2 separate regions of the Homo sapiens genome follow, and region 1 is linked to region 2. The links come from fine-mapping of genetic effects on gene expression. Tissue or cell type: skeletal muscle. Region 2 holds a variant in brackets; the other region holds the start of a gene. All regions are shown on one strand. Distances are from middle to middle. Region 1 holds the start of PAXIP1-AS2 (PAXIP1 antisense RNA 2). Region 2 has its middle 25 kb from the start of PAXIP1-AS2.

Region 1 (5,374 bases), 25 kb before region 2:
ACCACTGACAATACAAATCAGAGTTTTAGTTACTTTTGGGGAGGAGTGTGAGATTAGTGACTAGTAAGGGTGCATACATAGTTTCTGGGATGCAGGCAATGTTTTCTTCACACAGTTGGTGGTTACATGCGTGTAGTCACTCTGTGATAGTTCATACAATGCTATAATGTGTATACTTTTGTTTGCTGTACTTCAATAAAGAGTTAGTTAAAACAACAACAAAACACTTCTGTTTCTAGTATCTCAGGAATTGGAAAATTATAGTCCCTGGGCCAAATCTGGCCACCTGCTATTTTTGGAAATAAAATGCTAATGCGACCCAGCCACACTCATTCATTTACAGATTGGCTATGGCAGCTTGCATGCCACTACAATGCAGCGTGGATTTCATGGCCTGCAAAGCCTGCAATATCTACTACCCAGCCCTTTACAGGAAAAGTTTGTCGATCAGTGCTCTAGCCAGGCCTTGCTCCCATTCTTCAAACTGGCTCTTTCAAGCCTTCGTTCTCAAACTCAAATGCCAATCAGACTTTTTTTTCTCCCAGCAATTTTGAATTAGGACACAGAAACTGACTGGGTTAGGTGTTGTAGAGAGCAAAGCTGGGAGGTCACATGAAATGGAGGGCTGAGGCTGCCATGCGTCAATAAACACGATAGGAGGTGTGCAGAGTCTCACGTGCAGAGAGGAAGGTGAGTCAGGCCTGCAGGGCACAGGCAGGAGACCAAGAGCTCTGCAAAGGTGCTGAGGAAATCAGAGCGGGGCATCCTCCCTCTGCTTTCCAGGACTTGGGAGGCTCAGTCCTCTATTCCTGCAGCTAGTGTCATGAGCTTTCCCCAGCACAAACCCCAAACCCTTATCTTTGTAGTTCTTCGAGTGGCACGCCTTGTTACTGATGATCGCTAAGAGGAACATGGTGTTCTTCAGGCTGGGGAGAGGGCTTGATGCATGGTACATGAGGAAGGCAGTGCTCTCCAGCCAACAATAAACAAAGAAAAATTAAAACATGGATGCTTTGGTTGCCAAGAAGAAATGAAAAAGTAACATTAAGATTCAAAGACTTTTTTTTCATATCAAGACCCTCAATAAAAACCAATTTCAGCCAGGCATGGTGGTGCGCACCTGTAGTCCAGCTACTCAGGAGGCTGAGGCAGGAGGTTCGCTTGAGCCCAGGAGTTTGAGTCCAGCTTGGGCAACAGAGTAAGACCTCTTCTCTAAAATAATGAAAAATCTAACAATGACATTTTGAAAACTTTCAGAATTATTTAATCTGATTAGCCTAATCTGTATATTGAGATTAGTAAAGGTAGGTTTTGTTTTGTTTTCCAATCAGGAATATCCTCGCCTCTCCGTCCCCCCTGTATATACCTGGGAGCCTGAGAATGTATTTTAGTGCTACCATGGGAGGAAGGAGAAAGAATGACTAAATGGTTCATAAAACCAAACAAACCCTGAAGGTTCACGCCATTCTGCCCAGTGGGCCCTGTGGAACTTCGTGGGGCTTGTGGTTTAGGCTTCAGAGCTTTGGGGCTTCTGGGGTTTCTGTCTATATTATTCCTGCCTGGATGACATAGTGAGGTCTTCACTGCTGGAGAAGGGAGGGCTGGTGGGCCAGAGGGGAGACCCTGCAGAGGTGTGCAGTGTCCTTCTCTGCTGTTCATCTCAACCCGCTGTGTTAGGAAACCAGGAGGAAGCCCTACCTGGAATGAAACAGGTGCCTAGAATGAAGAGGGTAAGGACAAGGTTTAAGACTGTGACACCTGTTGCTTAAGAGACGCATTTAGGAGTGTGGCATGTAGATCCCAAATGTCCGTTTTGTAAAAGTTGTTGTTATTGTTTCACTTTTGTTGTTGTTGTTTGTTTGTTTTGAGATAGAGTCTCACTCTGTTGCCCAGGCTGGAGTGCAGTGGTGCAATCACAGCTCCCTGCAGCCTCAACCACCTGGCTCAAGCACTCCTCCCACCTCAGTCTCCCGAGTAGGCGGGGCCACATGTGTGCACTGCCATTCCTGGCTAAGTTTTCTTTTAATTCTTTGTAGAGACAGGGTTTCCCTATGTTGCCCAGGCTGGTCTTGAACTCCTGGCTTCAAGCAATCCTCACACTTCAGCCTCCTAAAGTGCTGGGATTACAGGCGTAAGCCACCACGCCCAGCCTGTTGTTATTGCTTTGAAGGAGTTCAGGAAATGCCACCCCCATGGCACTTGGGAGTGCTGATCCCTGTGAGCTGAGGGCACTTGGGAATCAGCGGATGCAGGCAGAGGTTTCCTCTGAGCTCCCCTTACCTGCCTGAAGACGGATCCTCCAAAAGGAACTCAGCTGTCATGAATCGCCTCCCCAGGAATCTCGTCAATCTGGGAGGATTAACACAGATCACAGGAGAGGACACTGGAGGTGACATCAGCCCAGATGACTATCACCCGTTCTCCCGAAGGCGGCTCTGAGATGTTTACGACCTCAGAGACATTTCATCCACAGAGCAGCACAACCTTTACTCACCAGACAGTCCCTCCCCAGGCTCTCCCATCACTTGTGTTCTCACCTCCCCTGGAAGCCCCGGGAACTTCGAAGTAGGCTTCTGTGGACTCCTGCCACTTCATCAGTAGCTGGGGCCCTGGTACCAGCACAAACTGCTTGCATCCAACTGACTTCACCAGACATACGGGCGTCTTTGGTAAGACCGCTCTCAGGTTTTGAATCTCCCAGGTTTGGGCTGAGATTCAGATTTTATTTAAGTAAATGAATTTCATGCTCAGTGGGACTGATATTGAAGCCGCCATTTAGGGCTTTAAGGCAGGAGTTTCGCGTCATTTCTCTAAAGATTCTGCTATTGGCAGGTTTGTGGTTTCACTTTTCTATTAGGTTAAGTTTTCGTTCGTCTTACTTGCTCTTTTGTAACCTTTTCTCTCATTGGACATTTTACTTGCTCAAGTTTGTAACCTTTTCTCTCATTGGACATTTTTTTACTTGCTCAAGTTTGTAACCTTTTCTCTCATTTGACATTTGGTTAAAGAGAAAGCAGTTTTCTTTGTAAAAGGAGAAAGTGAATGTTTGTGGCTTAAGCCAAATTTGTGGCTTTAAACCAGCCAGGCTTTGGATCTTGGTTAACATTGAGATTTAAAGTTTCTTCCTGAGTCACCCAAAATTTGTAAAAGGTTGGAATGAGGACGTGATAAGCTGAAGACAAAAAGGACTCTTTCTCCCAGCTGAAAGGCACCTTAGGCAATGGAGGTAACACAAGGGTGTGGAAGCTCACAACAAACCCCAGAGAAGAACTCACAGGGAGAGCTGCTTAACCCCCGGGGCACACAACACACAAGGGGTTCGTCACCCAGTGCCTTGAACTCCCAGAAATGTCTGGGTTTCTCTGAGGTAGGTAAGAGGGAAGAAGCTACTTGTAGGTGATACCTCCAGGAATAATCCCTACTAAGCAGCACACTGGACCCCAAACACTTTTCCCTTTTAGCCTTTGGGCATTTTAAAAGAGAATCCAAATTATGAGCAATTATCCATCTATAACCAAGCCCTCATTAAGCAATGCACCTTTGGAAACTCCAGCGGGGTTTATGTACAAGACTTATGGCGCCACCTCCTGTCGATAGTTGGAGAAATGGTCTTATTTGACCTAAGAAGATCCTAAATTACAATGATCAAAGAGAATTATCTTTGAAATAGCTAGATTAGTTTATTTATATGCACAATTTTAAAAAGCCAGCTATGGAATCAAATAAAATAATTAAGAGAGTTACTTCCAATGGCACCCAGAAGCATCCAAAAGAGGTTTTGACAGAATTCTTCCCTTAGAGGAAGAAAATAAAAAGCACTCTAAAACCATTACTGAATTTTAAAAAACACTGAAATGTCTTCTTCTCTCCCTGCTCCCCTGTCTCTCTAAGCCTCCTTGTCAGAACTACCCAGCCCTGATTGACCTTCTCCTCCTCCTCCTCCTGCCCCTCCTCCTGCTCCCACTGGTTTGGCTCCATTTCATCCAGCATCTGGTAGAGGGGAACCTGCTTTATCAATCATGATCAAACTTACAGGCATAGTTAAAAGAATTCCTTGATCTTCACCAGGTTCCTATTGGTTTTGCTAGGAAATTTGAATTAAATATCCAAGCTTATGACCCTAGTTATTCTGACTTCTAGCAACAGATTCACATGTTAGTAGCAAAAATTAAAGCTAAAGGCTGGCTAGACAAAGCTCACTGGAGAAATCTGTTAGGGATCTTCATAAATGTTCAGAAGAGGACCATAGACAGGCTTGAAGAACAGCAAAGGCTTTGCATCAGGCTATCTCCTCAGTTTTTCAGAGTAGTCAACTGGAACAAAATACAATATCAACAAAATTCAGATGAGTCAGTAATATACTTTGAGGGCTGTGGAAAAAATTTTAAAGAATATTTAGTTTTATCCGAAGAAAGCTGTGCTAATCATCGAAATGATACTCGACTCCAGTTTAACAAATGAGTTAGATGAATTGGAACTAACAATGAAAAGACAAAGTTGGGCCACTTCTGATACTCATGATTTGGTCAGTCTCATTGACCGGTTATCTGATACCTTAACTGAAGAAGAAAGAGAGAGGGAAGCCAAACAAAAGAGCGAGGCTAATACAATTATGAATTTACAATTAAAACAACTATTCACACAATTTTGGCCTTCACAATACCCCTAGAAACTCCCTAATGGACCTAACCTTCCACTTTGCAATTTTTGCAAAAAGCATGATTACTTTCAAAAGAGTTGCCAAAAATGAAAAAGGAAAGAATGTTAACCAGTGGAGGCAGAAAAGAAAACAGGGGTGCTCCAAGGAACTTAAAGGGGCCTTTCATTTCCTCCTTACTAACACTGGGAGAAATAAAAATTATTATAAATGGAGAACTAACACAAGCACTTATTGACACTGGAGCCACATTATCTGGAATTAATCCCATCTTGGTACAAGGTCCCATTCCTTGCAGTAAACAAAGAATTCAAATGGTGGGCATCACAATCCTCCTGTATTGGCATACCAATCTCAGCCTGTAACCTTTCAACAGTGTTCGTTACAAGGAACTCATGCCCTCCTCTTTGTTCCATCAGACCCCATCCATTCAACAGGAAGAAACTGCTTAGAATTATGTGATACCCACATTTCTTTCTCTCAAAGGAAGGAAATATATTTAAAATTAGATTATAAAACTCAACTTTGAGACACAACAGATATTTTAATAAAATTTTCAAAATCTAATCCAATTGCAATCCATATTGCCATGAAAGACAATGAATTATTGCTTAATGAAGAATTACAAAATGTACTAAAGACAGTACTTGATCCATTGTGGTCAGTGTCCTCCATTGATATAGAAACTATCATCTCAGCTACTCCAATAAATATTTA
Region 2 (5,374 bases):
AAAAAAAAAAGCCCAGGTATGGCAGGCATGAGAGGCTGACCCTGCAGACCAGGCCGTAGCACTGCTGACAATCGGGAAGGGCAGAGCCCCGGAGAGTCCAGGAGGCCTTTCCTAGGAGGACCAAAGACACAGCAAGGCCCTGTCCCAAGTCCACTCACGGGGCCACCTACCCCATAGCCGCAAGCTGCCTCAGAGACACAGGCCCTCCCGCCCCAGCTGCTCCTTCCTCCTCCCACCCAGGAGGCCCTGCTGTTGTGCTGGAATGGTGGTATTCCTCAAAACATCTGCTGAGCCCTAACCCATGGCACCGCCAAATGGAACCTTCCTTGAAGACAGGGTCTGACCAGAGGTGATCAAGTTGAAATGCGGTCAGCAGGGTGGGCGCTAACTCCATATGACTGCTGTCCTTATGAAAAGGGGGAATTGGGACACAGAGACAGACTCGCACAGAGGGAGAGTGCCACGGAGAGTGTGGAGAGACCCAGCCACAATCCAGGGAGCCCCCCGCCCCATCCCCTGGGGGAGAGCACAGTGTCGGAGGACAGGCCCTTCCCTAGCACTCTCAGAGGGAGCCTGGCCCTGCCCACACCTTGATCTCGGAGCTCAGTCTCCAGCAGCATAGGATAAAACCCCGTTATTGAAGTCTCGGGTTTGGGATGCTTTGTTACAGCAGGGGCATCCCTGCACCCTCCCTCCTGATCCCTGCTCCCACCTCCTTCGCCAAGTCTGTCTGCTCTGCTCAGTGCTGGGTGCTCGACCAGGCTTCCCCTCCTCTCTGGATGGCCAAGCCTAACCAAGGCCTGACCACCCACCCAGATGGGGAGGGAAGAGGAGGGGAGGCAACGGGGAGAGACAAGGAAGGATACAAGGCCGGAGGGAGGGAGAGATGGGGAAAAGACAAAAGAGGAGAGAGAAAGAGAGGGAGAAGGGGAGAAGAAAGATGGGGACAGAGACAGAGAGAATGGACAGAGAGAGAGGAGAGAAAGAGAGAGACGACTGGAGAGAGAGAGAGAGAAAGACTGGGGTGGTCAGGGTTGTGGGGCGGAGTGTCCAGGCCTGGGAGCTCAGCCCTAAACCTTGCTGTAATTGTTACTTTATAACAATGTAACTTTGAAGCAGTGGACTAGCTCCCTGTGCCTGGTGACTGAATAATTGAAGAAATGTTTGCAGGGCTGGCGTGGAGTGCTAGCAGCTGCGGCCTCCTCTGATATGTATGAAGCCTGATAAATTATGCCTGAGCCAGCAGCGTGGTGGTGTGAGACTCCTGACCCCAGAGTCTGGGGGCCTTGGATGCTCTCTTCATGGCGTTTAACTTCCACCGTGCTCCCCAGACAGCCTCTGCCGGTTACTGAATCAGTAGACCTCCTTGAGGCTGCGGTCTCTGAAAGTGCTCTAGAAGCAGGGGTGTGGAGCTCAGCTTCAGGGTGGGATTCCAGGAGCATGGAAATGCGGGGTGGTCCCGCCCAACATGGAGCTAGGACCCCCCACATCCTCTTGCAATTCATTCTGTCCACGTCTCTCCAGTTGCTCAGAACTGCCACGTGAGCCAGGCGCTGTTGATGGGGGACGGAGGGGTGAGGTATGGGGGAAATAAACCGTCTCGCTTACCCCGGGAACTTGTCATTTGGGTGGGAAAAAGTCAGTTTCGATTTGTGGAAGTGCCTGCCCAATGCCACAGAAGAAACCTGTCCAGGATGGAGGGTGTGGGTTTGTCAACTCCTGGTGCTGCATTCTTTGGCCCTCCTAGAGGCCCTGCCCCATAGACTAACCGGTGTTAGCCAGAGTTAGTGGTGCCTGATGGAGAGTGTCACACCTACTCACTGGAAATGGGCGGGAAGGGGTTTGGCCCTTTGCTTCCCAACTCCATTTTCAGTGATGGCAGCTTGGGTGTTTGACGTTGGCCATAGTGGAAACACTTACACCACGGAGATCGACAGACTCTATGGGTTGGGATTTTCTTTTCTTTTGTTTTTCTCTCCTTTTGTTTTCTATTAGGAAGGCTGATGCCAGCATACCACTGAGAGGGTCATCTAAGTCCAGCTCAAGGTCCTCAAAGCCCACAGTTGCTGCAGTCATAGAAGAGGATCTCAAGCAGTGGATTCATTCTGCCTCCTTCCGCCAAGCGAGTAAAAATCTCATTCACAGGACAATCATGCTGACTTTCAGACAATATTAAG[A/T]TTTCCGTAAAAATGGTTATTTGGAAAAGCACACATCTGCTAATATATCTGAGACGTAAAACTCCAGCAGTCTTGGTGCAGTTGAAAACAGAATTTGGAGACATTCATGGGTCCTGCTTCTCTACTGGTCAATGAATTCATCATATTTATATACTTATGAGCTGGGCTTGGTGGCTCACGCCTGTAATCCCAGCACTTTGGGAGGCCGAGGCGGGAGGATCACTTGAGGTCAGGAGTTCGAGACCAGCCTGGCCAACATGGTGAAAGCCCGTCTCTATAAAAATATAAAAATTAGCCAGGTGTGGTGGCGCACATCTGTAGTTCCAGCTACTCGGGAGGCTGAGGCAGGAGGATCACTTGAACCCAGGAGGTGGAGGTCACAGTGAGCCAAGATTGCACCACTGCACTCCAGCCTGGGCAACAGAGCGAGACTCCGTCTCAAAAAAAAAAAAAAATTATGTTGATTATACCACTCTTCTCCACAGGGAATACTGGCAGTGAAATCCGATTGAACGAACTACAGTGGATAATCTTGCTCACTGACCTTGCCGGCCTCTGGGTGAGAGTGGGTCTCACCACCACTGACGACCTACGTTTCACCAGCTTTGCCCCCTGCCATCTCAGGCTAGGACGCTGGCCACCAAGGGCTCCTTGCCAAGTGTGCCTGGACTCAGGCTCCCACACAGCTGGAAATTGACTCCTTTGTGTGACTGGCTCAGGTCAAACAGCTGCTCCCGTGGTGTCTGCTGCTCACCCAGACACATGGGACCATCCTCCACCTCGGAGCCCTCCACAGCCCCCAGGTTCCAGCCGTGGTGACTGGCAGGAGGCTGCTGCAGACCCTGGGCTGCCCAGGTGGCCCCAGATCTCAGAGCTTCTCTGGACCGACTGCATGGCGCTCCCTCTGGGCCACAGAGAGTGCCCCCAGCCTCCCAGGCCAAGCCAGCCCTCCCTTTGTCTCCCAGAAAACGAGTTCTTCAGCTCCTGCTGGAGAGCCTCTCGCAGACCAGCGACCCCTGCTCACCTCTCCAGGCACCTGGGCAGAAGGCCTTTCTTTGTTCTCTTTCAGCTCAAACAAATCAACCTGCCAAGGCCAAGCCTATTACTCAAACACATGGAGGTCACACAGTTCATCTGCTGTGCCCAAACGTGGGTAGACTCGGGTTTGGGACCTGGTAAGGGCCTCCCTTTGGAGAGGGAGCTGGTGGTGGCAGGACTCCCTCCCGAGCACTGACTGGCTTTGTTATCTGGGGCCAGTGACGGCGTCTCTCTGTTCCTTTTGTTTCCTGTCCGCCAAACGTAAATAATGGTAACCCAACCTCATGGGGTAGTTGTAGATTGAAATGTGTTAATTGTGCAGAGATTAAATGTGTTTATCCACGCAGAATGCTAGCACAGTGCTTGATATAGAGCAGGCTTTTCATAAATGTTAATTATTATTATTAATGTGGCTATTGTGATCTTTGGAGTGAATGGATGCATAGTCATCTGCCTTGTGTCCAATGCAAATGCTTAGTTGTCCTGAATAACTGGCAACTACACAGCGTTTTGCAGTGAGAGGCTCTGGGCCCTAGGATCAAGCCGCTGGCCTGTGTAATTCAGCCCTCACAGTGCAGTGTGCTAGCTGGCATCAAATTTGACTGCAAAACACAGAAAAGGCCAAGATAAAGAAGATAGAGCGTTCTGATGAGGGACACCAGGGCTGGTATAGTGTGCCCACCTGCCAGGAGCCCAGGCAGCATCTGCTTGCTCTCTGTCACCCTTGGCTCGGAGCTTCCACCTTGTGGACCAAGGCTCTGTTGGGTCTTCAGGAACCCAGAGGGAGGAGGGAGAAGATGAGACCAAGGATGCTTCCCTGCTGTCTTTTGAGGAAGTGTCTTGGCAGCTGCCATGTGGCATGTCACATACATCCCAGTGGCCAGAAGTTAGGCTCAGCGAAGAGGCCGGAACAGTTTTTATTCTGGATGACCATAGGCCCAGTTAAAAACTGGGGGTTCCACTTCTAAGAAAGAGGGGTGGTAGTGCTAGGGTGGACTCCAGTTAGTGCCTGAAGGAATTTTTCTACCATTTCTCTTCCTGCCATTTGTGAACCCTTCCCAATGTAGCAGGGATTTGATGCTTGGGACTAGGAACCAGTGACTTATGTCAGACGGTTCAGAGTCTGCGCCCACTCTCAAGGGTCACTTATGCCCCAGCCTATCCCATATTTACAGAAAGGGGTGTCCTGCAGAGGCACTGATGCGGGTGCTGGCAGAGTTTTTGGGGGTGGTTGTGAGTTGTATTAGTTATCGAATGCTGTGTGACAAATCACTCCAAAACTTAATGGCTTAAAACAACAGTCATTTACGATTGCTCACAGTTCCTTTAGATTTGGAATCTGAGAGTGCCTTGGCCAAGAATTCTGTCTGAGAGTCTCTCTTGAGGTTGCAATCAGATGTCAGCTGTGGCCATAGTCATGGGTGGGACTGACAGAGGATGGAGGATTTACTGCCATGGTGGCGCCCCTACATGGCTGGAGAATTGCACTGGCTGCTGGTGGGAGGCCTCAGTTCCTCTCAACATGGACCTCTCCGTGGAGCTGCTTGAACATCCTTGCAACATGGTGGCCAACTTCCCACAGAAGGAGCCATCTGGCCAGGAGAGAAAGACAGAAGCTGCAGTACCGTTAATGACCAAGCCTTGGCATTCACGCACTGTCACCTCTGCAGTATTCTGTAGTCACAGGGGTCAAGCCTGATTCCATGTGGGAGTGGACTCCACACGACAGGAATACTAAAAAAAGCGGGTAGAGTTGGCATCATGGTGGGTGGCTAGCAAAGTGCGTATTTAATCAGCTTAGCACGACTGGCTGTGGCTCCATTCATCACTGTGGAAGTTCAGACAAGCAGAAATTAACACTGTGAATCTTCACAAGTTGACTTTAGGTCTCCTGAAGGGTCTCTTGATCTACTGGGATAACTAATTTGGGAAATGAAAAATTTTCCCTTTTCCTTCCAATGGAAAAGCCTTTGGCTGGGAATTAGGGTTTTAGAGCTGGTTGAAGTAAAAACCAGCTACATCCTCTGGGCAAATCATTTAAATTTTGTGCACCTTCCTTATCAGTGAAATTGGAATAGTTATGTTACTTGCCTCATGTCCTTCCCAAGGATGTTCTGAGACTCCAGTAGTAACAAAGGTGAAAATGCAGTCAACGCATT

What was found.
Region 1: PAXIP1-AS2 starts here. The variant in region 2 is fine-mapped to the expression of PAXIP1-AS2 in skeletal muscle (GTEx, PIP 0.97).

Annotation. Positions count from the first base shown.
Region 1 is chr7:154,925,931-154,931,304 of GRCh38, reverse strand. PAXIP1-AS2 (PAXIP1 antisense RNA 2) reads right to left here and starts at 2,788. Exons shown (of 8, transcript NR_024476.1): 1 at 2,538-2,788; 2 at 2,281-2,349. RefSeq lists enhancers at 2,158-2,377, 2,528-2,627, 2,648-2,707.
Region 2 is chr7:154,901,166-154,906,539 of GRCh38, reverse strand. No RefSeq gene overlaps it. Among named protein-coding and RNA genes, the nearest start is that of PAXIP1-AS2, 25 kb to the left of the region's middle. The variant A/T (reference allele first, on the strand shown) is at 2,178.